4 linked regions of the Homo sapiens genome follow. The protein of the gene in region 3 purifies or fractionates together with the protein of the main gene of each other region. This does not show direct contact. Each region holds a gene or a part of one and is shown on either strand. Other genes may lie near its edges. The genes, in order: PLXDC2, SLC7A2, ZFYVE27 and SLC19A2.

Region 1 (7,906 bases), about 78 Mb from region 3:
GTAAATGAAAAATTTCATTAAAAAAGTTTTTAAAGGAATAGAAATATCTGACATGGTTACAGAATTTTTAAAAGTTGGCCTATTTAATTGTAATTAAATTATGCCGCACTTTATGGAATAGATGGATTTCAGAAGATTTGACCAAAGGGCATTCTTTCTTTATCCTCAACATCCCTTTTATAATCTAGGATTCAATTCTCAAGGAAAAAGTAATCCCTCAGCTGAACATAAGATATCGAGTCTGTAATATTATAAATACCCATTAACCTATGGGTTAATAATGCTCATTAGTAATTCTCACAGTTCAGGTTTCTCTCATAATTAGAGACTATCTAAAACATTACATTTGTAGTTCCTGGAACTTTATTTTTATATTCTTAGTCCAACAGGCCTTACTTACTTTGTCAGAAGAGTTGGAAATCAAACACACAGTTATTCTAGTCTAAATATTCTGTAAATTTAAGGCTACAATTTAGTAAATTTTCATTCTTTACTTTGTCAGTTTGTTAAAATGAAACAAACCTAAGTTTAAATTTCCTTGTTTTTTCTGTCACTTAGGTCTCTAATTAATCTTTCCTATCTGGTTTCAACAAACATTAGCCAAAGCACAGCCATCCTAGAACTCTCTCAGTACTGGGTCCTTGAGCCACATAAGTTTTCGTGTCTATAAATGCTTTTGAAATTAGAACCAAAATATAACAAAGAAATCAACCAGGTGAAAAAAAAAAAACTAACTAAAGAAAATACGTAAATATAAACATTTACATTTAGATGAGAAATCCCTCCAAATTGAATTTTTTTTCTTAGAGACATTTCACTCTAATTACTCAATAATTAGTCAATATAATTACTCAATAATTTTATGAAATTGATGAGTCCTGATGCCAACAATATCAGAATACAAAAGAGCTAACAATCAATGCACCCAGAAAATTAAAACTAATCAAAACATTTTTTATTAAGCAAAGGAAACCAAGAGGCAAGAAAATGATTTGAGGATCATGGCTGTAAAATGTCCCTTTCTTGACATTTGGAGGAAAGGCAGCAGTCAAGAACAAGGGGAAGGGAAAGAAATTATCAACGCATCACTTACTTCTTTGTATCCAAAGATGATTCGTCCATCCATGAGCAGGGTTGCCTGGAATGTGAAGCTTCCCAGGTTATAATTATCCTGGAGATGTACATGGTCCCACTGGACCACAAGTGCTGTGCCTATACACCCATTGAAAAAAGAAGAAATGCAATGAGAAAAACATACCAATCAATTCTGGTGGGAGTTTTCACAAAAATGTTTTTGCATCTGGCCTTCAAATCTGGTAGTTGTACTATTTCGATTTTATGTGGTTAATCAAATTCTGTTATTGAAATAGCATTTGGGATTTTTTTTAAAGGATTGAGTACTCTCTAAATATTTAGTAAAATAGAACCTCATACTAAGGTCAATAATTGAGCTAATGCAGTGTGGGGGAATTTTGCCTTAGGAATTTTATTAATGTTAATAGATACTGTCTGCTTAAATTTCCATAAGCCACTTTCAAAATGCAGCCCAAGTGGATTGAATGAACTTCAAATACATTTGACAAATGCTGAGAGAGAAACACATCTAAAAAGTTAGGACCACATACAAAAGACCTGAAAATGTCTTTTCCATACTTAAAATTATACTTTTCCACATTGAAGGAGTTCCTTTAACACTAATGGGAATTTTCTCCTTGAGTTCACAATGCTTGTATTTCTGTCTTTGTTGTGTTTCTTCCAGGAAGCTGTAAGAAGCTCAAAGGGCCCTGGACTAAGATTTTTGAAGTCCCCTTGAAGCACACTGGGATGAAACTTCAGTGCTGTATATTATATTCTGAATCACTCTGTCAGTGTTTACCATAAACGATTGGGCATGAAATAAAAACTGAAACATAGTTTAATAGTCACCAGTGAGAATTCAAATTTTTGTTTTAACTGACATTGTGTACTCTCTTTTTTTAAAAAAAAAGAAAAGAAATGAGCTGCTAAGACTTTTTCTTCACTCTAAATATTAGATTTTTCTGTTTGGTTAGAAAAACTGTTGCCCAAAAAAGTTGTGCTGAAAATGAAAATCATAGAACTAAAAGAGCAAATCTTATCTCCCAGTAATAAATATCTGATATATTTAAAAATTACAATTGCATGGAAGAATTAATTTTCAGTAACTATTTGGTGCTATTAGTAATATCTCTTGAGCTGGTTGACAATTTTAAATAGACACATTATTTCAAATATTTTGAACACCCAATTGTAAGTCCTGAAAGGATGTTGAAGTAAAGAAATGTATTTCTTTTGAGGCAAAACTTTAAAAGTAAAAAAGAAAAAAAAGTTTTTTAACTTGACCTTGGTGCTTTTAGCCATTATCACTGCTGTGAGTGAAGACCACTCAGGTCTCTTCCTTCCACGGGCATCTCCGTGTCTATATTGTCCTGAGGGAGGGAGGGAGGGAGGGAGGGAGGAAGGAAGGAAGGAAGGAAGGAAGGAAGGAAAAAGAAAAGAAAAGAAAGAAAGGAAGGAAGGAAGGAAGAAAGGAAGAAAGAAAGAAAAAGAAAGAAAGAAAGAAAAGGAAGCAAGGAAGCAAGGAAGAAAGAAAGGAGGGAGGGAGGAAGGAAGGAGAAAAGAAAAGAAAGAAGGAAGAGAAAAGAAAAGAAGAGAAAACAAAAAAAATAGAGCAAAAGAAGACAGTAGCCAGGAAACCTCCCATGATTTTATAAGTATAGGAATTTTCTGATTGTGAAATGCCTCCTAACTTCTTTTTCCTTCACACATGTCTACAACCCTCAAGCTCTAGTCTATTCCTTATTTTCTAGTTTCTATCGCACTCTGGTGATGCAGTGAAAACAATGAACCAGAGGGCAGAAGACTTAGACTTGCATCTTGTCTCTATAAAACTTTCCATGTGAACTTGGACACAATTAATCTGCATGAACCCGTTTCCTTTCCTATAACATGGGGAGTATAGTTTTTGCCTTCAAGACATTCCTGCATTAAATACAAGAAAATATACTTACGCTTGATTATTTATGAAAATAAGAGGGCTATATAAATTAAAGTTTTTAATGCCAATTCTGAGGAAGGGATTCCTAATATTTTGTTAGTAGCAGGTTGTTAAAAACCACACTGTTGACCAGGTGCGGTGGCTCACAACTGTAATCCCAGCACTTTGAGAGGCCGAGGCAGGCGGATCACGAGGTCAGGAGATCCAGACCATCCTGGCTAACACGGTGAAACCCCATCTCTACTAAAAAAAATATTAAAAAATTAGCCGGGCGTGGTGGTGGGCGCCTGTAGTCCCAGCTACTCGGGAGGTTGAGGCAGGAGAATGGCATGAACCCGGGAAGCGGAGGTTGTAGTGAGCAGAGATCATGCCAGTGCAGTCCAGCCTGGGCGACAGAGTGAGACTCCATCTCAAAACACAAAAAACAAAAAAAAGTGTACTGTTTGCACATGTTAAGTTTTATATTATGTAATAGCATAGCTCTCTCAACATTTGCTGATTTAAATTTTCTAACCTGCTGCTGTCTTTTCCAGAGAAGTTTGCTTTCCTAAATTGTTGAGTTTCCAATCTTTAAGTATCCTGTCAATGATTCTAACTAAACTTGAAAATATTTCAGCAAGTTGTTGTGGTATTAAAAGGGCTTCGTGAAGAGTCTTACAGTGTTTAAAAGTGTTTCATTCATTTAATAAAACGTAAGTTTTCATTATCATATTGTTTGAACTCAATATTCCTCAATATTTGATTCCTATGGAATAAGTCATTACACAGAAGATATTTCAGTGGGTAAACAATACATGCATTCTTGAGTATTAATACTTTTACAATTCTCAGACATAAAACTCACTTTACGTATGTAATTATTTTTATTCATTCATTGAATAATTATTTAGGACCTACGTCCTAAATAATAAAGTGTCTATGCAGGGTACTGGAGATAAAATGATTTCTTATAGCCACAGTCCTTGTTTTTAAAGAACTTAAGAGTTCAGTTGGAGTAGTATACATCAATTTTTAAAAATCATTCAAATACGAGTAAAATTCAAATATTAAGAGCTACCTAGGAACAAGGTATATGAAAATATATGAAGAGAGACTTATTTAATATGCTTTATGATTTTGATAGCAACAGTATAAAAACTTGGTCATTAGAATCATGTGCCCATGAGTAAATGACCCTAACATCACCTAGTGAATGTCGGAGTTTGGAAAATAGTCAGTGTTCACTAAATCATTTATTGTTTCCGTAGGATAGACTCCCAAGGCAATTTTGCATGGTAATCATAGAATAAGTTTCAGATAAGTTTCTGGCTGCAGTTTTGCCTCAAGAATAGTGTACTTACAGTCCACTTGCACATCCTTGGGTGTTAGCACCTCATGAGTTTTTAAAAAATGGAAGAGAAGAGAATATAATAGTTCTTAAAATAACAGAGATGAATCATTATTGCAGCTAACACTTAGAGTTACCTAATATTGGATCATACCTTGGTGTTACTCAAGATGTTCAACGTGTATTTCCTAAGGTGAATGTCTAACTATGTTTAGTTTCCTCATTGTGCTATTTTGACCTGTAAAATGGCTTTCATCACACTGGTCAGGAGATGGCTCTTAGCAAAGTGATCATATTTCTCCAAGGCTACAGCTACCATCAAGTCTATTCCAACCATGAGCAAATTTCTTCCTTGATCATCAGAAATAAGATAAAAGTAGAAATAACTCTGTTCACCCCAAATGCTTGTATTATTTGCAGGCATAAAATTGTCTTTTAAACAAATAAATATCATTTTTGAATGATAAATACACAGAAAATTCTATATTTAATCATTGCAATATAAACTCTTTGTTACCTATAATTTATTTTCTCTACCAAAGTTACAGCTTTCAATAAGATGTTGAGATGAAAATTCATTTATGTCTCCAAGACCTTGAATTTCTCGCTTGGATTTTGGCACCACTTAATGATTTATTATAGTTTTTTTCTCTATTTTATATGTCCCAAAAAGTAATAGCAGGGATACATTGCTCTTGGTATATTTGATAAATCTTGACAGGCTCTCACTCATTTTCTAAAGTCAAGAAAACTTTATTTTCTTCAGTTGAACTACCCACAACTAACTACTTTATACTTCTTAAAATATGTGTTCATCTTATTGATACATACAAGTCATAAGTTTTGGAAATTTAATGTCAATATATTATGGCACTTGCCTCAACTGGAAGATCAGAACTAACAAAATTATTCTTATTTCCATTTTTTTCTGATGGGAAAATTGGAAAACTGACTTATTGAAATAGCATCAAATAAATGCGTTTGCTTTGTCTGAGGTCTTGTCTACAGCAACTCAGTTTTACTGTGTATAGTAGATGTTAATAAATGTGTTGAATGAATGAATGCCATTTGTGTACTTTATAAATCTTAGCAGTATAATATTTGTCCTCTCAGACCATTTGCATCAAGCAGTTTACACACCAAAAAATAAACAGTTTACAAAAACATTAACATGAATCTGATGCTTGAGGTTTAAAAATATACATGCAGCAAAAAATAGGCTACTCAACACATACCATTATCAAAATATCTGACAGTTGAATTTCTGGATACACTGGGATCGAAATTTGCCATTAAAGGTGCTATGTACTGTGTGGCTGTTAGCATTCGATGTACGACTTCTCCAGTGTATATGAAACCTAGAATTAGAAAAATAGGAAACATATTCAGAAAAAGAAGCCCATATAAAATTATGATTAAAATACTTCCAACTCAATTACAGTCATATTATGAAAATAAAATGTCATGGTAGCTGGAAAAAAAGGAACATATTTAATATCTTAGTATCTAATTAACAATACTTGGTCTGGATTAAGTAACAAATTCTTGTATAATTTGGTAGAACCTTGCAAATCCGAAATCTATAACATGTACAATTTTAATTGGGGGGAAAGTGACCATTATCTGGATGAGATTATTAGGCTAAAAATGCTAATACAGTATTATAAGTAATTCAAATATTCAATTTGCTATTATTAATCCCTTGTTATTTTAACAATAGCTTACCACACAAGTCCTTTTAATTAGTGAATTCATTTTCATGGTATTTATGTAAGCTACCATCTCAGCATAGGAATTTTAGAAACGACATCTGGTAAAATGCAGAAAATGTTTTGATTCTTTTTTTTTTTCTTGAAAGTTGAAAGGGGGCTAAACACCCATGGTGACGTTTTCAAATTGTTGGTTTGCTCAAGCCTCTATATTATCAGCACACTGTCAAGAAGATAAAGTCTATATGTTTGCAGGTAAGGTGGTAAAACATTGACAATGCACAAATGCCTCTCTATTTAGAGATTTAATCAATGCCAGTCTATTCTAGCAGTTGGATAATGAGAGGGAATTTATTATGGAGAACTTTGGCTTTGAATTAACTTTCAATAGCTCCTATGTTACATGTCTAACCCACTTTCAATTATTCACACTAGGTTTATTTACTTTGTGGATTATCCATGACAAATTGTTAATCCTGTGCTGGCTTCTTGCTTTCAAGGTCTTTAGCTGTCTGAAAGGAGAGTCAGCTCAGGGATTGCTAACTAATTTTAATATTAATCTAAGAAATACACAATTGAGATTACACATGCAAATGCACACACACAAATAAAATGCAAGGCAAATTATTTGTGACAATGCAATTGTAATGTTTGGGCAGTCATCAGTTAATTAGATACCCGACACTAATATAAATCATTTTTCTACTTTCACAGGAATTAATAAGATAATAATATTTAAAGCTCAAAAAATGTTAAACTTTGATCACTCATTTTATGGTCTGAATAAATATTTCATTGGCAGATTGCAGTCTTCATTGTTTCAAATTCAAAATTGTGATGTCTAGGTAAGTTATTGCAGAATTAAACCTGTAGTTATTTACTTAGAAATTAATTTCTCTCTTTTTGGCAATATCTTCTTTCCTTTGAATACCTTTTAACTTTTCATCAAAAGCATAATTGAACTCTAGCTATTCATCTAAAAAAATTTTTAACTGTAAAAATCTTCAATGTGTACTTTTATCATCATGACTTTTTGTTTCTTATGTGACTCCTTGTTTCTTATTTGCCAAGCACTATCTTTCAAAACAAATACCTGATGCTTTAAGCAGAATTTTGTACATTTGTAATTTCACACAGCTCAAGCATATTAAACATATTATGGTGATTTGGTCATTGCTTTTATTATATTTCCTTCTAGATTTTCAGAGTCATACTCCTAATATTCAAAGTGCAATATTACATCCTTAACATTATAAATATGAAGAGTAACTCTTTTCCAGGGTCTCTATTTTTTCTCCTATCCTCTCCAGCATGCATTTATAATTTATCATTAGAATGAATACAAAAATTCTATAGATACCATCTCTGAAGAGAAATGTTTGAATTAGACTCTGAAAGTGTTATTTCAGAGAAAATAGCTCCAAGTAGGTTATTTTTCTTCTTTATATTCTCCAAGTACAAATAGAAGAAACTGCTTAACTTGGAGGATGGAGGGCAGTTATTCAAGGAAGGAAGATAATTTTAAATAAATACAAAATCCATTCTCCAAGACAACTTTGTAAGAAGAACAGCAGCAATCCCTAGAAATACACTGTTGCAAAATGTAAGAGCATTGATGATTTCAGACACTTCAAACTTACTGTTAGTATTTAAGTAAATAAGATATATGTACTTTCCCCTCAATGTTTCTACATAGATTTGCCAAGAAACTGCTCCCACTCTCAATAACCCAATTTTTAAATCACAGAAACCATTAACTGTTATTTCTTTTGATCGGGAAAATGTTTCCCAAATCTACAATTTATCAAATGTCAAAGGTGAAATTTCAAATTGTTTCCAAAGAAGTAAGTAGAA
Region 2 (7,906 bases), on a different chromosome or scaffold from region 3:
AACAAATTTCATGTTAAAGAAGCTATAATATCAAAAAAGTAGGGTGAGTATTTTGTTTTTAGAAATTCACTGCCTTCTCATGAGAACTTTGTTCCTACCAAAAGCCTTTCCTCTTGGGCTGGGTGTGGTGCCTCACACCTGTAATCCCAGCACTTTGAAAGGCCAAGGCAGGAGGATTGCTTGAGGCCAGGAGTTCAAGTGTAGCCTGGGCAACATAGCGAGACCCCATCTCTACAAAACAAACAAACAAATTAGCTGCGTGTAGTGGCTCATTCCTGTAGTCCTAGCTAGTCAGGAGGCTGAAGTGGGAGGATCACTGGAACCCAGGAGTTCAAGGCTGCAGTGAGCTATCATAGTATCACTGCACTCTAGCTTGGGTGACAGAGTGAGACACTGTCTCTAAAAATAAAATAAAACTAAATTGAACATTAAAAAGATAAGCTCCTCCACTGCAAGTTAAACTATCCTGTCCCATTTGAGCTAACCGTATACTGGCTTGGGTTTGAAGAGGGCTTCCTGGGAGGATGTACCTGGGATAACCATATGTATCCCACATTTCAGAGGTCTCCCCTTTGTGTGTCTAAATGAAATCAGTAAACCCCAAAGAAAGCTAAATCCTAAAACCAATATTATTTTGATTGTGCAGGTGTTACTGAATCTGATAAATCCCCTGGTGCCTTGAGCTTTAGTAAATACTCTAAGATGTGATTCTCCTTTTATGGTCTCTAGAAGCGTGGTTTTAACTGTGATTGACGTGGTGTGAAAGTATATATGCCAAATTAATTGCCACCCTGTTGAAATAACTTGGGGAATATGCTTCAAAATATGAGTATGTTCAAAAGGATTGTTTTCCCCCTCAGGTTCCATTCTTACCATTTTTGCCAGCGTTCAGCATCTTGGTGAACATTTACTTGATGGTCCAGTTAAGTGCAGACACTTGGGTCAGATTCAGCATTTGGATGGCAATTGGTAGGTCTTTTAATGTCGGGTTCTCTTTCCTATTTCATGTGCTGTGATGAGAGAAACATGCCCTCTCCCCCATCCTGGGAATAAAGGCTTTTTTTTCCCGCTTCTTTCTTTCCTAATTCTTAGGGATGTCCGAGTGCTTTTCCAGATGTTTTCAGATGCCTTTTTAAGTCAGTATCTCCCACTAACCCTGTAGAACCATGTAGGCTCTATTTCCTTCTACTTATGGGTGAAAAAAATGAAACCCAGAAAAAGTCATTTTATATCAACCCAAAACTCACAACCAATTTTCTAAAATAGAACTAAAACAGCAAAATGCCTACATGTCTGCAGTGATCTTAGGAGGGTACTTAAAACGTTGCCTCCTGATCCCCACACAGTCAGTGTGGCTGTTAATAAACAGTTGCTTTGCATACAGTTCTTCGGACTCTCCTGGTGACAGTGACACGTGTAAAGCATGTCCGTGTCCTCTTTGTTAATACAGAGTGTACTTTGCAAAATATCTGATCTTGACTCTGATAACTCACCACTTGTATTTAGGGTATAATTTGAGACTTTATTCCACATATCATTTTGTTTAAAGTACAGTATTGACTTCTAAGAACATCAATTAAAATTTTTCCATATAAACATTGAAAAACTTGTTGAGAGCAAAATACAGTCTATAAAGTTTGGGTCTTCACAATAGAGAGGCACATTCTACCAGGAAAATATTGATCAAGGACACCTTCTGTGGGGTATCTTACATTTGCATTTCATTCTTCTAAAGCAGCGGTCCCCAACCTTTTTGGCACCAGGGACGGGTTTTGTGGAAGACAGTTTTTCCATGGACAGGGTGGGGGATGGTTTGGGGATGAAACTATTCCACCTCAGATCATCAGGCATTAGTTAGATTCTCATAAGGAGCATGGAACCTAGATCCCTCACGTGTGCAGTCCCTTCTGTGAGAATCTAATGCTGCCCTGCTCTGACAGGAGGCAGAGCTCAGGTGGTAATGTTCACAATGGGGAGTGGCTGTAAATACACTGTAAATACTAGAGACTGCTTGCTCACTTCCTGTTGTGTGGCCTGGTTCCTAACAATAGTGGTCTGTGGCCCAGGGGTTGGTGACCCCCGTTCTAAAGTACTACAGAAAGGAAAGAGACAAACTCTATTAAGTTCTACATTTTCCACCTCAATAACTTAAAAGTCATTTTCTGACATACCTGAAACATTGATTTTTTTTTTTCCTGCCCCAACAGGCTTCCTGATTTACTTTTCTTATGGCATTAGACACAGCCTGGAGGGTCATCTGAGAGATGAAAACAATGAAGAAGATGCTTATCCAGACAACGTTCATGCAGCAGCAGAAGAAAAATCTGCCATTCAAGCAAATGACCATCACCCAAGAAATCTCAGTTCACCTTTCATATTCCATGAAAAGACAAGTGAATTCTAACACTTGCAGGAGCAGAGCTGGTCATCGTCTTAGCATACATATCCTACACTGAGTAAACCGTAACGGGATGTCATCAGCATGCTGGGTTGTCATGGGTTTGCTGCATACATAGTTCACCCTAATTTATACTTACTCATCTGGACAGCATCTCCTCAGATGGTGAATTATGTGCACGGGGAAACCTCCTGAGTGGAAGTTTCATTCATCAGTGATGAATAGCCCCCAAACAGTGGGAGTGTGTATGTATGTGTGTATGTATGTATCTATGTATATGCTTGGGAACATGAGTGTTACAAGTTAGCTGGTGTTTTACTATTATTGTGTTACATTTTTCCAGTGTCGTCATTAATCGGTGGCATATACTGCACATACTGAAATAGAGGGAAATCACTGAATGTAAAGAGGTTTCATCTATGCCCCCTGCAGTTGGGGAAATACTAGTAGCTTTACCTTGTTTGACTTCATTAATGTCAGTTTAGGGGATGCCAAAAATGCAGTTACTCATCATGGTGTCTGTCACTGGTTAGGGGTAAGATGAGGGGATAAGGAAAGAGACTTTTCAATAAGTTGTGAATGCCAACAGTGGGTTTAATGCAAATTTTTTTTCCTGTGAGGTATGACAGTTTGCTCAAACTTCAGCCAACAGGGGTGTCTGCTTCTGCTGCACTACACAGGCCAGGAGTGGCATTCCATGCCACTAGTTGGCATCCTTTTGAACTTTTGTCTCCTTTGCAAACAGTGGTCCTAAAATACGAGGTCTTCACTTGCTGTGAATGACGTATCCCCAGTCAGGGACTTAAGAGAGGCACTGTGATATACTTGGGACCCTTTAAATTAAAAAGTGAAGATAGTCACCAGGGCCAGAAAGCTCATGGAGTGGCCGTAATGAGAATATGTTTGAAGATCAAAGAGTTAGACCAATGCTTGAATAAGTAGACCCCAAGCATCCTTTTCTAAAAAGTGACTTAAAATAAGCCAACAGACTCTCCCAGACCACACAACTAGTGGAATGATTCCTCCTTTTTCCATTACTTACTTAATCACAGTTTAGTTTTTTTCTTAACCTCGTCAGGCCCAGAGTTCACTTCTTTGTTTCTCTGTTTCTTTTGTCTTGTCTTAGAGATGAGGGGGCTACAGCAGCATCATGCAAAGAGGGAAAGATGAAGGGATAGAAGAAGAGAAAATCCCCCTGTTCTGATAGGAACGGCCTGTTCCATTGTTAAATGGCAAATGGCCCAATTTAAGGGCTTTGGATCTAATTTGCCTCTGATGTTTCCTTTGGAAACATTTAGGAATATTTTTCTCCCCCTACCCCATAAATTGTGTAGCACTTTTTATTCCATTTGCTTTCAAATGACTACACTAAGCCTAATAATACAAGCTCCAGTGTTATACAATAACCCATCAGTGATTGGGGAATCAAACATTTTGGTTTAAAAAACATGATTATTTAAAACTGGAAACTAAAAAGAATCAAATTGAATTAAAGCTATATAAACACAGTTAACCCTTGTAAATGAGTAAACAAATTTTTACATGTAAGATTCTCTAATTGTCATATTTTACTTTTTAGGATTCCCTAATAGTGGACTGTTTATTTGCAGTGTATTTGCTTCTCATGAACTATTTCTCGTACAAATCATTAAATAGTTCATTGGATGAGGCTGGGTGACATTTCCCAGGACAGCATGGTGAACATTACCAGGCATGCTAGCTGGCCCGTGTAATCCCAAGACAAGGAAAACATTCGTTTTCCTCATGGGTCTTCCAAGAAATGAGCTATTTTATTGATGCCATTAAAAAGCAAGTTGCGATGGTTTTGTATAGCCAGGAGTTTATTGTGATTAAACATCAAAGAAACAGGTAGAAAGCCTGGGTTTCTGGCTGCTAGCGTTATAGCATCCATGACACAGAACTCATTACGGACATTCCACAACTTCCAGGGTGCACATGGTAAAATCTGAAGCCCAGAATTTTCTCTCAAGCTGCGTGGTTTACTGGAGAGAAGGAGTTGGATAAGCACAGGCTCGGGTATTTTGGTAGGGACTGTAGGCATGCTCATAAATCCTTGCTGTTGTCACAGTACGCTGAAAACCCGTTTGATTCTATACCCAATCAAGAATAGACCCTTCACACAGGAAATGTGAACAATTGTTATATATGAACACTCAAATCTTTTACTGTAACGAAACCAAGAAACTTGTTTAGAATGTGATAGGCAGCTAAAACTGTTATGCCCACTGTGCTCAATTTGAAGCAGAATTTAGTGAAAAATTATTTTTCCACATTGAAACACTTTGCAGACACAAATATCTATGAAAAGATGCTTTGTCAGCCACTGTGCCTTTTTTTCTGTGAAGACTCAACGGATGTGTGTGTTTGTATGTTTGTTAACAGTTACATATGTTTGTATGAGTGTATATATATATCTGTGTGTGTGTATCTCTAACGTCAGTGTATAAGTAAGTTGGGTTTATGGTGGGCTTTGACTATGTCATTAGGTGGGTACAAAACCCAACTGATGTGGAGAAAAATTGATGTTTGATGTTGATAGATATGCTTATACCTAATTTTTAGTTTTTAAACTATTTTAAAATATACTATGATTTTATATGTATATTTCCTATAGACTCTTTAAGACGTATTTATAATGTTTCTAATATGAAATCACTAAACTCTAGTACATTATAGCAGGTGCTTTGTAATCTGGAATGGAGAAGAGGTAGGGGCATTTGGGGATTCCTGTTTACTTGCTGCTGCCACACCTTTTCCGACTGATCTGTCCTGGTAGGTGTTTATTAGCAAAAGTCAGTATCACCAGCTCTTTGGCACCTTTCTGTTTCTGCTTGTGAATTCATAATGTTTTCAACTAAATTTTTTTTTTCTTTCTCAGAATTACCTAAATGTTTTGTAGAGTTTTGACTAGTAATCAATCAAAATTATATAAAGTCTTCTCCAGTAATTAAGAAATACATATGCAAATTCTTTTGTGATTGAGTAAAAGCAGCTTAAATTACTTTTCTTTTCTACATTAAGAAATATATTCTCAACATTTTCAGTGAGAATTTCTTGTAATGGCACCTCAAATTTTATACTCTTAAAAAAAAACAATAATTTGTGAATTACCACCAAAAGGCAATGGCAGTCCTACATTTAAGAATAGAGCTATGCAAACTCTGTTAAAAACTATGAGGAAAACTTATATTAGAACTTTTGATATATACTAAAATACTGATTATCTTAATCACATTTTCCCCAGAGATAAACATTGAGAGAACGAAAGCCAAAGTGTCATTTAAGAGAGATATATATGAAAAAGTAACATTAATATATAGAACTTTACCATCACCAGCCGTAGTTGATAGAAAATATTAGTTTCAGAATTACCCTCCTTTAAAAAATAAGAGACTATTTGTTTTCTTTTAATTTCTATGAATAAAAGAAATTTTTAAAAACTTTAAAATTTTAAATATTAGTCAAAATACTTTTTAAGTCCTGAGTGCTTACAGGTAGTTGTTAAAAAAATTTTAAGGCCAGGCATGGTGGCTCGCTCACACCTATAATCCTAGGATCTTGGGAGGTCGAGGCAAGCTGATCGCTTGAGCCCAGGAGTTTAAGACCGGCCTGAGTAGCATAGCAAGACCCTGTCTCTACAAAAAAAACAAAAATTAGCTGGGCATGGTGGCATGCACATGTAGTCAGAGCTACTGGGGGTGCTGAGGTGGGAGGATCGCTTGAGCCCAGGAGAGTGAGGCTGCAGTGAGCTGAGATTACGCCACTGCACTCTAGCCTGGGCAACGGTGAGACCCTGCCTCAAAAAAAATAAAAATAAAAATAAAACACTTTAATTAGAATCTATTTTTACCTATTTTCTAAATTTATTTAAATGCTTAGCAGGAAGCATAAGGAAAAGCCATCGGCCTCCAATACCCATGATGACAGAGGGAGCACTTGAGCCTTGCCTTCCCTCCTCTTAAATCAGGGTGTGTTCCGAGATTACAGAACATCACACCTTGGCGTGATGAAATCATGCCAAGATTCTGACTCTCCCTTTCCGGTGATACTGCTCATGATTTCTCCTAATACGCTTCAAGCAACTGTTACCACAAAAAATACAGTTTCCGCAGGGCTTTAAAGGATTGAGTTTAGCATGTATATCATGCGTTATTAAAGTTCACGTGATTCATGTGAAATTAACTGTCCTTTTTGCTAGTGCCAAAACAGTGCCTTCTCTGCACACTTTACTTGTTTATAAAGTTCTCCCACATGTCCTTAAATATCAAGGGGGAAAGTATGGATATTCGCGTAGCAATAATGCCAGCAAAGGTCATTTTCATTTTTTAGTCATATAGATATGAAAATAAGTTCATATAGATATGAAATTGCTTGACTTTATTGTTTTGGGGAGATTTTTTTTCCTTACATGATTATATTAAACACTTTAAAATAGCCTTCCGGTTTCTGGATTTTGAGAAGCCTGATCTGTTATTGTTGTGGTTGTTGGTGTTTGTAATATTCATTATTGTTTGTATATACACGGTTTAGTCTTACTGATTTCAAATGCATTTTGTTATTGCTCAACCCAACTGGTAACACTGTTTGCTGGGAGCATTATACTTAACTTTGATTCACCATGGTTGATGCCACTGCCATGATCGCTGGGTCTTAAAGAGCTTTCCCTAGCCACTGACAGCCCCGTGGAGATCATAATCAGGGCCCCAGGCTGGTTCCAGGATCAGGCAGCCTATAGAGTGTGAGCATCTATGTGTAGCTACCCTTGTTGGGTGGGCTCTTAGACTGATGGGGTAGGATATGAAGTGAAAGACTTCAAATGCAAGTAAGGTAGTTTGGGCTCCTTAATTCCAAACATCCCATGAGTATATCAAGATGAATAAGGACCAAGGGACCTCTGTGACTCATAGAAGGGCTGGCTGAATCCTGAAGTAGCATAGTGGGACCTGGTCTACAATTTATGCACATGCACTGACAGCCTTGCTGTGCCACGTGTCTCACCAAGACCCAGTTGGGAAAGAGCGTCATATTGCCAACAGGTTGGGTTTCTCTGGCCTACACCTGATTAATGGGCCCTTTATCTTTGGTGTCCCCTAGGAGTGTCCAGTTGTTTTATTGCTGTATTTTGTTATTGCAGTACTTAATAAAAATTGTTGATAGGGCCCAAAACCCTACAGAAATTCTATGTCTGTAAAAACCAACAAAGGCATTGGACTTGTGTGAATGTACAGGGTTTTTTTAGTAGTAATTTTAAATTTAAATGTTTTAAGTGATCATCAGTGTTCCTTTTTACTTATAAAGTTGGATTCTTTTTTAGAATTTGTAATAAATAAAAACTGCTGCTTTACCACTGTAAAATATGCTTTCTGATGTGGTGTATTTTTAAAATAAATTTTAATATGTAATAATATAGAATGCAGATGTTACCCATACCAAAAGCACACATTTCATACTTACCTAAATTAAACTCCTTATTTATTTGGAAATCTT
Region 3 (7,906 bases):
CATCAAATAAAATATAAATCTATGAGTTCATACTGATAATAGTAAGAAAGAGCTTCCTTATAGTAGAAAGCCAGCTAAAAAAATGTCGATAGAATAATTAGAAGATCATCTTTGCAACCATCATAGTAATAAACTGATTAAGGCAAGACCCATCAATGGATTTTTAAAGCAGTGGATAAATGTTTGATGAGGAACAAGATATTTACATAGTCTCAAAGTATCTCCCCTCAAATTACTACTAATGAAGAGTAAAATGATAATTTACAGTATGGATGCCTTAACCAAGTGATCAAAGTCAGTATTTCCTGACATCAGGTGCCTCCTGATACGGATGTACTGAACATGACACATCACTTGTCACACTCTAAATCTGATCACAAGGAACCAAACAATCCAAAAATTAGGGAGATTCTACAAAATAATAAGCTTGTACTATTCAAAAATGTCAAGGTCACAAGAAACAAGGACTGAGGAACTGCTCCAGATTAAAGAAGACTAAAGAGACATAAAAAAATTAAACATGATGTATAATCCTGAATTGGATCCCAGATCAGGGAAACTGATACAAAGAACTTTATTAGGACACCCACACTGGCTCACACCTGTAGTCCCAGCACTTTGGGAGGCTGAAGCAGGAGGATTGCTAGAGCCCAGGAATTCAAGGCCAGCCTGGGCAAGACAATGAGACCCTATCTCTACAAAAAAATTGTTTTAATTAGCAGGGTATGGTGCATGTGCCTGTGGTCCCAGCTACTCAGGAGGCTGAGGCAGAAGGATCACTTGAGTCCAGGAGGTTGAGGCTGCAGTGAGCCATGATCATGCCACTGCATTCCAGCCTGGATGACAGAGCAAAACTCCGTCTCAAAAAGTAAAAAAAAAAAAAGAAAAAAGGAAAAAAATTAATAAAAGAAGAAAAAGAACTTTATTAATACAACTGGTAAAATCCGATTACGAATTATACATTAGTTATCAACGTTAAGTTTCCTAATTTTGATTACAGCTCTGTGGATATTTAAGAGAATGTCCTTGTTCTTAGGAAATACACGCTGAAGTATTAAGTCACGTTTGCAACTTACTTTCAAATGGTTTAGGAAAAAGAAAAGAATATGTATATGTAGAGAGATAGACGAAGCCAACATGGCAAAATGTTAATAATTGTTCTATCTGGGTAAAAGGCATTCTTGGTATTATTCCTGTACTTCTTTAAGTTTAAAACTATTTCAGGCTGGGTGCGGTGGCTCATGCCTGCAATCCCAGCACTTTGGGAGGCCAAGGCAGGCAGATCACCTGAGGCTGAAGTTCGAGACCAGCCTGGCCAACATGATGAAACCTCATCTCTACTAAAAATACAAAAATTAGCTGGACATGGTGGCACATGCCTGTAATCCCAGCTACTCTGGAGGCTGAGGCACGAGAATCGCCTGAACACAGGAGGCAGAGGTTGCAGTGAGCCGAGATCACGCCACTGCATTTCAGCCTGGGTTACATAACAAGACTCTGTCTCAAAAAAAAAAAAAAATATATATATATATATATATATATGTGTATATATATATAAAACTATTTCAAAGTAAGAAAGTCTTTTTTAAAAAAACTACATATCCAGGCCCCACTCCAGATAACTGACTCGGAATTTCTGGGGTGAGGCCCAGCCATCTGTTTGTTTATAACTTTTCTTGCCCCTATTCTATTTCAAGAGAATGCAGAGACCCCACTCCAGGGAAGGGAGGTGTAAACGTCCACTGCTACTGAAGTTGTTAGATGAATATTTTTCAAGTCTTAAAATGCTTCCTCAGAAGTACCAGCTCTGTCATGTTTACGAAGTTTCTCCACAGTGTAGTGATGATAACTAATATCTACTCAACACTTCCCCAGTACAAGACACCTGTTCAATCTTCACAACCACCTTCTGAGTAAGCCCTGTTATCATTCCATTTAACAGATGAGAAACTTGAGACACACAGAGGCTAAGCAACTTGCCCAATGTTACACAGCAAGTAAATGGAAGAGCTGGGATTTGAACCCAGGCAGTGGCTTATACATGCACATGCTTAGTCAAGACCCTAAACTGTCTCTCCAGCAGAAAGAACAGGGCCAGGCGTGGTGGCTCACGCCTGTAATTCCAGCATTTTGGGAGGCCGAGGCGGGCGGATCACAAGGTCAAGAGATCGAGACCATCGTGACAAACATGGTGAAACCCGGTCTCTACTAAAAATACAAAAAATTAGCTGGGCGTGGTGGTGTGTGCCTGTAGTCCCAGCTACTTGGGAGGCTGAGGCAGGAGAATCGCTTGAAACCAATGGAAGGCGGAGGTTGCAGTGAGCCGAGATTGCGTCACTGCACTCCAGCCTGGACAACGAGAGCGAAACTCTGTCTCAAAAAAAAAAAGAAAGAAAGAACAGAAGCTGTGAAAACAAACAGCTAGATCGAGATTCTCATCCCAGCTTGGCCACTTTCTAGCTAAGTAAGTCAGCCTTTTTCTTTACCCATAAATGGAAGATGTTAATATTAACTACCTCCCGGAACTGTTAAAAAGGTTAAATGAAGTAACAGCTGTGGTTTGCCTAATATGATGTCGAGCACACAAAGCTAGCACTTAGTGTCATGGCTGCTGTTACTGTTCCCCCACCTCCCTGGCCTCTCTTCCATACTCACAAGCTCTTCACCTCAGCCACGGCCTCGGGACGAGACAGGCGACCTCTCTGCAGGTCCTCCTGCCTCACGCTATGATACTTCCTCCGCATCAGCTCGGAATCAGGCAGCCGTGCCCGGCAAACCTCCTGAAGGTAGCCCAGCAGGGCGGGCACTGAAATCATCAGGGCACCTACTGAGTACCATGCACCTGCAGAATCAAAAACACTGCAGGTAACACAGGTAAGCAAAGACCAGGAGTCGGCCCACCCAGACGCCCACTGCTTGTTCCTCACCTCCTCCAGGGCTCTGCCAGTCAGGCCTTCCCTGATAGCTCTGTACGACACAGTGTCTCACCCCTACTCTCCAGCCCCCTTAACCCAGCTTCATTCCTCATAGACCTTATCACCACATGACACATTGCAGGCATGTCTGTTGTCTCCTCTAATGAAGTAAGCTCTTGAGGGCTGGGACTTTGTCCCTTTGGTCACTGCTGTGGCCCCATCCTCACTTTTAATACGTTTTAAGATGCTGCTAGCACAGAGGAGGCTCACGCTGGAGTGTGACTGCCAGGAGCTCCTGATGCCTGACACTCGGACCTCTGGGCCACTAAGGAAGCTAGAAGCCTTTCGTTCAGCTTTTAGGACACTGCAGACGATTGTGCCTTGAGAAATGGCGAAGCCGAGATAAAATTCAAAGAAAGAACTTCTTCCATGTAACATGGCACCCCAACAACAAGCTAACAGAGCAGCGGGCCCATAATAAATGCTTACTAAACATCTGTCATAGGAACTGACTTACTTTGGGAGCATATATAGAAAAATCAAACATCCTAGGAAGTTTTGAACAGGTAAAGATGAGTCCAACTAAGAAACAGAAAATGAGATCTTATATGAACTGGATTTATTTTCAACCTACTCAATCCCTATCTCCAGAGGAAACAAAGAAGACACCTGAGAAATACAAGGTAAGTAAAAGAACAAAAACATGAATAATGGCCCAGCTCCTCCAAACATTCTGTCCCAGACTCTTTATTCTCACCCTGAGGGGTTTGGCTTTTTATGTGGCCATCTGCCAGCGCCAACCACGGATAGGGTAGGGTCACGGTATGCACTGTAGTAAGAGGTTCATAGAAGACATTACCCATGACCCCAACAGACACCCATGTGTCCACACTTCTATCTCAAAGGCTTCATGCCACTCCTCACTGCTGGTGACTGCCCAGCAGCTCCCGTTAGGCTCACTAGCTGAACCAGAGAAAAGCAACAGATATGGCAAAAATCCCTTATCAGCTCCTCATCCCAGTACCTTTACTCATGCCATGTCCCCAGATGACCCTTGAATCAGCTTAAAAACCAAAATGGAAAAAGGTCAATGCATCCTCAGCAGGAAGTCAAGAAGGAAACAACGATAATACTGAGAGCAGCTACAATGCACTGGCTGCCTCTTCCACGCCAGGCACTGTGCTAAGTATTATGCCTAGACTGCCGCATTCCTCACAAATACTCTAGGAGGAAAGCGTCATTTTTATCCTCCCTCTAGAGGTAAGGAAAATTAGGCCTTAACAGGGAAGTTCAATAATCTGCCCAAGGTCACAGCAGGCAGCTCAGCCTGGATCGTCCCTCTGGAGGCTGTTTCTGACTCCAAGCAGACACAGAGGAACACTAACTCCAGGGCAACAAGAGCAGCTCCCACACATAGGGTGGGGCTGCATCCAGGTGTTCTTCCCCCACATTCGTTCACAAAAACCACTGGCCCCTGAAGGCAGTTCTTACCCTCATTCAAAGTGAGGAACAAGACGTTGAGGCCCAGGCAGGTCAGCAAGGAACACAAAGGCATCTGCCACCTACAATACAGAGAGTCCTGATCACTACAGAGAGTCACTCCTCCAGCTGGGGAGGGGAGACCAGGCAGCACAGACGGGACATCAAACCAGAAGAGGAGGCCTGGAACACAGAAGGTCAAGGAGAAACGAAAAGGGGGCCTCTCACTTGGACTGGTGACCAGGAGAGGCGGTAAGATGTCACACATTAGCACCTGGGGTGAGGAAACTGGTAGGTCTGTAGTGCTTTCTCCCAAAAGGAAGAAGAATTTATAAAATATCAGTTAAGAAACCCAGTTAATACCATTTAACCTGTGTTTTGTAAGGTTGTATTCTCCTTAAGAGGTGACACTGACAAATGTTCTTAATATTTTCCTCTATTCTTTTTTTATAATTTCATAAGAATATATAATCATTGCACAAGATTCAACTAATACAGAAATCAAGAAAAAACAAATTGTGGACTTCTTTGGCCCCATTTGTGCCTTTATCTTCTTATGTCCATGTTTTTGAAAATTTGAGAGTTTATCTGAGAGTTTATTTTGAATACCTATTAATTCAAAAAGAGAAACAATAGTAAAGATTTTATTTTAATATATTAAAAATCAAGATGAAAGTAGGGTGCAGCATTCACTTAGCAATCACACCTTAAGTGAGCTGGAACAGACAGAAGCAAACACAGATACATCACTGCCACCACCACCACCACCACCAAATGGCAATGCAGAAGCCCCCAAACAGGGAACAAGGAAGACCAGAGACTCAGATTGCTGAGAACAAGCAAATGCTGCTGGCTCCGTCCCTGATAAAGGACATTTAGTAGGGAAAGAGGAGCACAGATGCAACAATGAAGCCACGACACCCAAATTCTAAAGGCAGTGTCAATATATAGGTGAGCCACTAGGAGAGAGACAAACATCAGAAAAATAAACAGGTAAATTGCTGGCAAGCATTGAATGTATTTTCTTTTTTTTTTTTTTTTTCTTTTGAGACAGAGTCTCGCTCTGTTGCCCAGACTAGAGTGCAGTGGCACAATCTTGGTTCACTACAACCCCCGCCTCCTGGGTTCAAGCGATTCTGTCTCAGCCTCCCTAGCAGCTGGGATTACAGGGGCACGCCACCACACCTGGCCAGTTTTTGTGTTTTCAGTAGGGATGGGGTGTTTCACTATGTTGGCCAGGCTGGTCTCAAACTCCTGACCTCAGGTGATCTGCCCACCCTGGCCTCCCAAAGTGCTGGGATTAAAGGCGTAAGCTACCGTGCTGGGGCTAAATATATTTTCTTGTGCTCTGGAGTATTTCAGAGTTACTGAATGAGGTTAACTAATTCATGCAGGGCTTTTACTTTTTTTTATTATTATACTTAAAGTTCTGGGATACATGTGCAGAACGTGCAGGTTTGTTACGTAGGTATACACGTGCCATGGTGGTTTGCTGCACCCATCAACCCATCATCTACCTCAGGTATTTCTCCTAATGCTATTCTTCCTCTAGCCCCCACCCCTCAATAGGCCATGGTGTGTGATGTTCCCCTCCCTGTGTCCATGTGTTCTCACTGTTCAACTCCCACTTATGAGTGAGAACATGTGGTGTTTGGTTTTCTGTTCCTGTGTTAGTTTGCCGAGAATGATGGTTTCCAGCTTCATCCATGTCCCTGCAAAGGACATGAACTTATCCTTTTTCATGGCTGCACATAGTATTCCATGGTGTATATGTGCCACGTTTTCTTTATCCAGTCTATCATTGATGGACATTTAGGTTGGTTCCAAGTCTTTGCTATTGTGAATAGTGCTGCAACAAACATACATGTGCATGTGTCTTTACAGCAGAATGATTTATAATCTTTTGGATATATACCCAGTAATGGGATTGCTGGGTAAAATGGTATTTCTGCTTCCAGATCCTTGAGGAATCGCCACATTGTCTTCCACAATGGTTGAACTAATGTACACTGCCACCAACAGTGTAAAGGGGCTTTTACTTTTTAATGAAATTTATGAGTAAGGGAATGAAATGACATCTGTGTCTTTCTCCTGAAATTCAACACACTCCACCTGTACCACCCTAATTACGCCTCAGAACCTCTAGTGGCAGCTACCAGGGTAAAAGCGAAATAAAAGCCAATCCCATTTTGGAAATAAAAACACCACCACTCAAGTCACTTTCATTTTAAAGCCTCTTCCCTTCTATAAAATGTCTTTACTGACACTTTGGTCCCAGGAGACCCAAGCAGTAGAGTAGCTGATCCCAGGAGAGAGTCTGTTAACAATTTACTGCAGCTCTAGGCTTCAGACCTAATAGCCAGAGCCCAAGATTAGGTCCCTCTTCAAAGTCAAATCCTCTTTACTAAGAAAAGAACAATCAAAAGCACAAACTAACGTGACAGCCACTTTCATGGACCAGTGCTCCCTCTCCCAGCAGCACAGAAACTGCAGGCTCCTGGGGGCTTTTAAGTCCAATGCTCCTCCTGCATCCTGCTTTAACCAATCCTACCACATCCTCCAATTTTTAATTCCATAAAATGGAAAAACCCTAACACATTAGTGTGCTAAGACGCACTACGGACTAGTAGAGGAAAAGGAGACGGGCAGGACAGGATACACTTAACTTTCGTACTTTGCCACAAAGAGCAACACACACATACAAAGAATGTGCCGGGGGCACAGCCTCTCTCCTAAAGAAGACCAAACTTCACATCATGCTGAGATTATAAAAGGAGAAAACAGCCTCTCCTCATACTGTCTCCCTACCCCTTGTGGGAAGAGCACAGTGATCTTACAGTAGAGAACACAGCTCTGGAACACTGACTAGCTCACCTCTACGGATACAGACATAAATTAGGTGAACAAGAAAAATGTAGGGCCTTTGCCAGAGAACTAGTAACAAAACATCCACTATTTCCAGACTGAGGCATGGATAAATACTCAATGGCATCCTCAGAGGTTAACGTAACTCCACTCACCCTGCTTCCTACCAGTCTCTCTCATGTATTTCAGAGGACTGAGGGTCTTTATGAGAATCTGATGAAAACCAGAAGCTTTTCCCTAGAAATACACACATGTGCAGACACATAATTTTACATGCAGTTTCAGGGGATTCACTGATCCCTAAAACTCACCCATAGGCTCCAAGTTAAAAACCTCTGCTCTTTAGGACAATCAGGTTTTTGTGTGACTCCTGATGCAATGCAACACCAGGGGCACAACATTTACCTTTGCAAAAAAAAAAAAAAACACTTTTCTAACTTCAATCAAATCCAACCTTTAAATCTAACTTCTAGTCTGCACCACAAGGAAGAAACCAGACAAATCTCGGTAGTAAATTCTCCAGGAAAGTCAGTTCAGGCTCAGTCTCTTCAGCAAATCAATGTCACGAGAGAGATTGTCTTAGACTGAAAAAAGACTTAAAAGACATAATAAGTACAAACAATGCACACTCCTGGACTGAAATGTGA
Region 4 (7,906 bases), on a different chromosome or scaffold from region 3:
AGAGAAATCTAGTAGTCTGGGGAAGGGGTGTCTTCTCAGAGGACCACCAAATCATGGCTGATTCTCCTCTGCTTACCTTGTGGCAAACCCTACGTTTTTTTGTATAACTAATAATTGAAATAAATAGAACAACTTATTCATTACTTACTGAATGCTTGTTTTTTGCCATGGACAGTTAAATAAAAAAAATTACATGATTTTTAAGCAAAGCTAATGCTAAGTCATATTCAGCGACATTTGTATTAAAGTTTGTATTTGCTCTTAGAAGACTGCAGAAGGGCCAAGTTGGTTTGAATAGAGCTATTGTTAACTAAATCCTAAAACAAAAGGAGAGGAGAAAAAGATTTCTTCTGTCTACTCTCAAAAGTTTTTTTCTTAGATTTCAGGAAAAGCATTAATTTTAAAACAGATACCAGTGTGTAAGTTTTAAGCAGGCTAAAATTTGACTGTATGTTAATAGTTGAAGGCCAGACTTTCAGTAAAACAGATCTTTATCTCTAAAAACTTTTTTATCCTTTCATCATTGTAGCATGTGTTTTGACAGACATTTACTACCTTTCTTAGATTTTTTTAAACATTCCACCTATTTTGCCTGATATTCAGAGCCTCACGAAGTTTGGTTTTTACCTCCTTGACAGCCTTATATCCTACTACAAACCTTCTTCCCCTTACCACTTCCACATAACCAAGCTCCATTCATATTAATCTAATAGTCTTAAGTCCAGCATATCCACAGTCTCATCTGTTGACATGTACTCAAAGACTTATTCTCTTCTTGGAATAATCTTCCCATATATATCTGTTGATATCTTTGTTAGCCTTTAGGTTTCTCATCCTTCAAGGTCCATTTTGAAGAAACAACCCTGTATTTCCTATTTCCATTATAAATACTGCATATATTATATATTCCTCACTAGGTTCAATACTCCTGGAGAGCTGAGGATCTCAGTTTATTTATTTAGAGACAGTCTTGCTCTGTTGCCCAGGCTGGAGTGCAGTGGTGCGATCTCGGCTCACTGCAACGTCTACCTCCCAGGTTTAAGCGATTCTCATGCCTCAGTTTCCTGAGTAGCCAGGATTATAGGCTTGTGCCACTACTCTCAGCTAATTTTTTATATTTTTAGTAGAGTCGGGGTTTTGCCATGTTGGCCAGGCTGGTTTTGAACCCCTGGCCTCAAGTGATCTGTCCAACTTGGCCTCCCAAAGTGCTAGGATTACAGGCATGAGCTACAGTGCCTAGCCTTATTTTATTCTTTTTTTTTTAAATTTTTTAATTTTAATTTTAATTTTTATTTTTTGAGATGGAGTTTCGCTCTTGTTGCCCAGGCTGGAGTGCAATGGCGTGATCTCGGCTCACTGCAATCTCTGCCTCCCAGATTCAAGTGATTCTCCTGGCTCAGCCTCCCAAGTAGCTGGGACTACAGGCACACGCCACCATGCCCGGCTAATTTTTTTGTATTTTTAGTAGAGATGGGGTTTTGCCATGTTGGCCAGGCTGGTCTCGAACGCCTGACCTCAGGTAATCTACCCACCTCGGCTTCCCAAAGTGCTGGGATTACAGGCATGAGCCACTGCGCCTGGCCATTTTATTCTTTTTGTCACCTCCGTGCTGGTTGAAAACAATGTTGTGCAAATAACTGCCTATTAGTTGTTTAATTGAAACTTGATTCTAATTTAAAGCCTAAATCTAAATTAGAACTTAAAAATGAACATCTGTTTTCCCTTGACTTTGTAGCTCAAGAAAACACAAGCACTGATCCAAAGAGTTGTGAAAGGCACCTTGGTCATAATAAAATCAATTCCCGTTGCTCACATAGCAGATGTTACGTGAAGTGAGAAGTTGGAGTATGGACAATTAATAAGGGTCTGTAATTGGTACATTTTTGCCTGTAGGATGTTTCCCTTCAAGATTCAAAATATCAAGGAAGCATTTTTTGCTGTCATTGGAAACACTGAAAAAGAAAAGGATCTGCCTTGGAGACCCATTAGTTAAGTGCTGGAGACTGTAGTCTTTATCTCTTCATGAATGCCCTGTAAAAGCACCTCAGTGCAGATTGGAAAAGCTACTGCAAGCATTAGAATTAACCTGGAAGATAGTAGATGATTAATAGCAGTTTTCTGATTGAAGAAACCAGGCATTTTAGTGTGGCGGATTCAGAATTTATGAATTCAGATCCTTCTTCTGCCAATCCTGTGATAACTTGGGACAATTCACTTAACCTTTCTTTAAGGCCAAGTTTCCTTGTTTGTAAAATAGAGATGATAGAAGCATTTACCTTAGGTTTGTGGTTTGGATTAAATAGAGAGAATTTAGAGAAAGTGCTTAGCGTGGTGTGTAACACAGCAGTAGAGGTTTGTTATTATGATGCTGATAATAGTGTGAGTGGGGCATTCCCCCTGGGTTGATGTCTTTTAAAGGAGAAAATGCAGGTTTCTTATTTAGAATAAGTTAAAGAGAAACTATCTGGTCTTCCCCCTCTCCCCTATTTGCCTTTCTTTTTGTTTTTAGTTGTTATTGCAAGGTTGGCAGTGTTACTCTCCTCCATCTTCATTATCTAAATTGTAGTTTTGTAATAGTAGAATTAGACTCATGAGTAAAGATACGTTAAATTGATAATTTAAAGGATGAAACTTAGACAATGAAAACTTAGCAGTTAATCATTTTGGGACAACTATGGTTAAAAGTTATGTAACATGTCTAAGCACAGACAATATTATTGGAGTGAAGAGGTCATCCAAAATCCCAAAACAAAGGAAGATGAACTATTGAAGGGAGCAGTAGAGGACATTTTTAAAGGAAAGGTTTAATGGCTAGTACTTCATGGTGCTATGTTGGGGAAATTGTGAAGGTGACACTTAGTCAAACAGAGGAGGCAGTTTCAAACTTTAGAAAATGGACAGGCTGGGTGCGGTGGTTCACAGCACTTTGGGAGGCTGAGGCGGGCGGATCATGAGGTCAGGAGTTCGAGACCAGCCTGGCCAACATATTGAAACCCTGTCTCTCCCAAAAATACAAAAAATTGGCCCGGCATGGTGACAGGCACCTGTAATTCCAGCTACTCGGGAGGCTGAGGCAGGAGAATCGCTTGAACTCAGGAGGCAGAGGTTGCAGTGAGCCGAGATCACGCCATTGCACTCCAGCCTGGGTGACAAGAGTGAAACTCCGTCTCAAAAAAAAAAGAAAGCTGACAGATAGTATCTGTAAAAGTATAGGCCACAAAGGAATGACAAGTTGTTAATTAGAACACAACTGGAAATCTCAAGATTACCCTTACCTGCTTTGGTTTTCTACTTAGAGTTATTTAATGCAGCTAAGGGCACTTTTTTCCTCATTTGCTAAAATTTCCACAGTTTTGAATACGAATCATTTCTACATTTCTTGATTATTCGTTTAGGCACATAGTCAGGTGCAACAAAATTTCCTGATCAAGTGGAGCTTGCTAACTGATTTACCAACACAAATTAGACCAAAATTCATGAAGGTGAGGCCATTAAACAGATCACTTTTGTCTGGAATGTATTTCAGAAAACAGGGATTATGTTTTACTTTTATAGCTATGCTCTGCACTGGCAAGAGATTTTGCAACAATTTTTTATTGTTTGCCTAAAACCTTAGAACCTTAGCTCATATTAGACTTGAGTGAACTGAGATGTACAGGAAAGATAAAAAGAAAGTTACTATTGGTCTCAGAATGTAAAAGTCTGGGATTAGGTTGCTTCATCACAAAGTATTCAGCCTTTTACCAAAACTACCTTTCAAAAAGCACTTAAAAGTTGAGGCCACTGACAAAAGGAAGGAAAAATCTCCTACAGTGATTGTTGTTGGAAGAATGGGAATGATAGCTCAATTAATTTAGTTAATTCATACTGCCCCAGATGTCCTTGTCAGCTTGTCCTCTAGTCTTCAGACTTTGTGAATAAATCAGGTGGAGTAAGTAATTTACATGTTGTGTCTCATTTACTTTTTGCAACAAACAACCGCCCTTTACTGATAATGGAGATTAAGGCTAAGGGGAACTAAAAGAATGTTGTCTACAATCACACAGCAAGTGATGGAACTGAAATTCCTGTTGGGGTCTTTCTGGTTTAAAGTTTATTTTAAAGATCATTTCTACTATATCCCAATTTTAAAATATGCATTAGAAAGAAAACAGCAAAAACTTCTTTTTTCTATTTAAAAACAAGCAAAAAGAAGGACATAAAAGTTGCCTATATTCCTGCCATCTAGAGAGACTTAATTCTGTCAAGACTGTAGGACACATTGACCATCTTTATTTGTTCCTCTGCCCCAAAAGAAACAAAACTTAAAGTCAGAGAAGCTTAATGAAACAGTAGGATAAAGGCTCCCTATCTTGTGTCTAGAAGTAAGAATTGACAGTGATTCCGTTTTCAAAGCATTTATTGAATAGTATCTTCCAAACAGTATGCTGGCTTTTAGACAGGTTATACAGGTGAATGTAGGGGTCTATCCTTAAAAAGCCTATAAGGCAGTTGTTCTCAACTCTGGCTCATTTAAAACTCTATTGGGAAGTTTTTAGAAAATATCTGTGGCTGGGCATTTTTTTTTTTTAAAGAGACAGAGTCTTGCTCTGTCATACAGACTGGAGTGTAGTGGTGTGATCATAAGTCACTGCAGCCCCAAACTCCTGGGCTCAAGCAATTCTCCCACCTCAGCCTCCTGAGTAGCAGCCATAGGCATGTGCCACAACGCTTGGCTAACACATTTTTTTAAAGCTTCTTAGGAGATGCAGCCATGGTGAAGAGCCAGTATTATGAATTAATTGGGGAAACTGATGCATATAGATCAGTATTAGGAGAGTTTGAGGCTAGGCCAGATGGCTCACATGTCTGTAATCCCAGCAGTTTGGGAGGCTGAGGCTGGTGGATTGCTTTGAGCCCAGGAGTTTGAGACCAGCCTGGGTAACGTGGTGAAACCCTATCTCTACCAAAAAAAAAAAAAAAAAAAAAAAAAAAAATTAGCTGGTTGTGGTAGTACAGGCCTGTAGTCCCAGCTACTGGGGAGGCTGAGGTGGAAGGATCACCTGAGCCTCACCTGAGGCGGAGGTTGCAGTGAACCATGATTCTGCCACTGCATTCCAGCCTAGGTGACAGAGGGAGACCCTGTCTCAAAAAAACAAAAAACAAAACCAAAAAAAAAAAAAGGGTTTGAATGTTGTAATACAAGTACTTTTGGCTTCCGCAAAGTCTTTCTGAATAAGGAAGTCTTTGAACTAGGCCTTGATTAATGGGAAGAATTTATTAGGAAAAAGATGATGGTATTGGGGATAGGAAAGGATATTTCAGGCTGGGCGAGGTGGCTCACCCTTGTAATCCTAGCGCTTTGGGAGGCTCCTCATTTGAGGTCAGGAGTTTGAGACCAGCCTGGCCAACATGGTGAAACCCCACCTCTACTAAAAATACAAAAATTAGCCAGGCGTGATGGTGGGTCCCTGTAATCTCAGCTATTCGGGAGGCTGAGGCAGGAGAATCACTTGAACCTGGGAGGCAGAGGTTGCAGTGAGCCAAGATCGTACCACTGCACTCCAGCCTGGGCGCAGAACAAGACTCCATCTCAAACAAAAAAGAGAGAAAAGACATTTTCAAAGTTATCTGAACTGCTGTTGTCAAGGTTGAGATCTTTGAGGTATTTGTAGGTTGTTTTTTATGAATAAATTCTTTATGAGTATTCCAGGTCCTTTCATCACTAATGTTTTTTGTTTTTTTTTTTTCTCTTTCTACCAGGTCTTCAATGAAATTTATCCAGTATGGACTTACTCTTACCTGGTGCTACTGTTTCCTGTGTTCCTTGCCACAGACTACCTCCGTTATAAACCTGTTGTTCTACTGCAGGGGCTCAGCCTTATTGTTACATGGTTTATGCTGCTCTATGCCCAGGGACTGCTGGCCATTCAATTTCTAGAATTTTTTTATGGCATCGCCACAGCCACTGAAATTGCCTATTACTCTTATATCTACAGTGTGGTGGACCTGGGCATGTACCAGAAAGTCACAAGTTACTGTCGAAGTGCCACTTTGGTGGGCTTTACAGTGGGCTCTGTCCTAGGGCAAATCCTTGTCTCAGTGGCAGGCTGGTCGCTGTTCAGCCTGAATGTCATCTCTCTTACCTGTGTTTCAGTGGCTTTTGCTGTGGCCTGGTTTTTACCTATGCCACAGAAGAGCCTCTTCTTTCACCACATTCCTTCTACCTGCCAGAGAGTGAATGGCATCAAGGTACAAAATGGTGGCATTGTTACTGACACCCCAGCTTCTAACCACCTTCCTGGCTGGGAGGACATTGAGTCAAAAATCCCTCTAAATATGGAGGAGCCTCCCGTGGAGGAACCGGTAAGCTCAGCCTTAAATATCTTGTAATTGCTACTATGGGGGCTGGACCCGTGGTGAAAAAAACAGCAAACTCCCTCTTGGTAGATCTTGTATTTATTTGGATTCATGTTTTATCCTGAGTTGGTTTATTGCTTTATTCATTCATTCATTCATTCATTCAAGCTATGGTTTATTTATATTAGGGATGACACATTTATTTTTTCCTGGAGTGCGTGACCTCCAAAGTCAGACTGATACAGCATTATATTGTTCATGTCAGAGATGCCTTGGATTGCAAGGGCTGTGTCTTCATCTTTTGAGTGTTTGGCATATAAATAAAGCACTCAGAAAATTGTTGCTAAATGAGTAGATGAAATGATTCTAATAAATGATTAAGTATCTACTTCTAGTTTCTGAATTGAAGCCCAAATTATTATTATTATTATTATTATTTTTGAGACAGAGTCTTGCTCTATTGCTGAGGCTGGAGAACAGTGGTGCGATCTCGATTCACTGCAACCTCCGCCTCCAGAGTTCAAGCAGTTCTCCTGCCCCAGCCTCTCCCTAGTAGCTGGGATTATGGGCGCTCGCCACCACGCCCAGCTAATTTTTGTATTTTAGTAGAGACGGGGTTTCATCATGTGGGCCAGGCTGGTCTCGAACTCCTGACCTCAAGCAGTCCACCAGCCTCAGCCTCCCAAAGTGCTGGGATTACAGGCGTGAGCCACCGCACCCAGTCATGAAGCCCACAGTATTTAAGGGTAAGAAGTTAATTTCCTCTTCTGTGCTAGAAGGGATATCTGTTATTTATTTTTCAAATGACAATTTGCTGAAGTGAAGTAGTAATGAATAATACAGACGAAGAGATCACAAGAGGACAGTTTGAGGTGGTGATGGAATAAATAGTAAAAGTGTGTTATGAAGCTGTCTCTTGGAAGAGAGAGGTATGGCATTAAAATAATTTATCCATCTGTTCTGTCTAGCCAGGAAGATGAATTCCTTTCCCTAGACACCCACCCTTTTTTTTTTTTAAATATTCAAGTGTTTTTTTTGTTTCTATTAGGTTATAAGCTGTGAGGAACAAAGTTAATTCCAGCCACACTGTAGTCTTAGTTTTCCTGGGACATGTTTGGAAATAAGCCTATTAACATTCCAGCTTTGTAGGTGGCCTCAGTCGGACTGAGCTCCATAAGCTTTGTAGGCTGGCTGATAATAAAGAACCATTATGAGTAAAGTCTTTCATTCTCTACTGAGAGTTAACTGAATTGTTTAAATGTGGCATCTAATGTCCTCATTGAAAATTACTCTCTTTTCTCTATCCCCGTTCTTCAGCTCTCAAATTACTACTTGAAATTTAGGTTATCATCCCAGAGAGCCTGGGTAGACTTGTAGAGCCTGGGCAACCCTCATCATGAAACTCACCTTGATTACCAGGGCACCTGTGAGCACTTTTTGTCAGAATGACCAAGGATTAAGTGGCAATGAAATGCTGATTTTTTTCATAGTTTGTTAGGTGATATTAGAGAGTCAACAGAGGGTTGATGGGGGAGGGAAGGAGGTGTGTAATCATTTCATAGATTTT

The links.
Region 1: the proteins of ZFYVE27 (region 3) and PLXDC2 purify together in Homo sapiens (affinity purification with mass spectrometry; 2 studies listed by BioGRID and IntAct, with this or other methods). This does not show direct contact.
Region 2: the proteins of ZFYVE27 (region 3) and SLC7A2 purify together in Homo sapiens (affinity purification with mass spectrometry; 2 studies listed by BioGRID and IntAct, with this or other methods). This does not show direct contact.
Region 4: the proteins of ZFYVE27 (region 3) and SLC19A2 purify together in Homo sapiens (affinity purification with mass spectrometry; 2 studies listed by BioGRID and IntAct, with this or other methods). This does not show direct contact.

Annotation. Positions count from the first base shown.
Region 1 is NC_000010.11:20,141,090-20,148,995, reverse strand, and holds part of PLXDC2 (plexin domain-containing protein 2 isoform 1 precursor), read right to left. Parts: intron 5,702-7,906; coding exon 5,579-5,701; intron 1,213-5,578; coding exon 1,094-1,212; intron 1-1,093. UniProt on the Homo sapiens protein: May play a role in tumor angiogenesis.
Region 2 is NC_000008.11:17,562,743-17,570,648, forward strand, and holds the end of SLC7A2 (cationic amino acid transporter 2), read left to right. Parts: intron 1-860; coding exon 861-969; intron 970-2,207; coding exon 2,208-2,404; 3' UTR 2,405-7,824; downstream 7,825-7,906. UniProt on the Homo sapiens protein: Functions as a permease involved in the transport of the cationic amino acids (L-arginine, L-lysine, L-ornithine and L-homoarginine); the affinity for its substrates differs between isoforms created by alternative splicing.
Region 3 is NC_000010.11:97,739,665-97,747,570, reverse strand, and holds part of ZFYVE27 (protrudin), read right to left. Parts: intron 4,478-7,906; coding exon 4,407-4,477; intron 3,979-4,406; coding exon of another isoform or gene 3,940-3,978; intron 2,843-3,939; coding exon 2,656-2,842; intron 1-2,655. UniProt on the Homo sapiens protein: Key regulator of RAB11-dependent vesicular trafficking during neurite extension through polarized membrane transport. Promotes axonal elongation and contributes to the establishment of neuronal cell polarity.
Region 4 is NC_000001.11:169,475,594-169,483,499, reverse strand, and holds part of SLC19A2 (thiamine transporter 1), read left to right. Parts: intron 1-5,742; coding exon 5,743-6,345; intron 6,346-7,906. UniProt on the Homo sapiens protein: High-affinity transporter for the intake of thiamine. Mediates H(+)-dependent pyridoxine transport.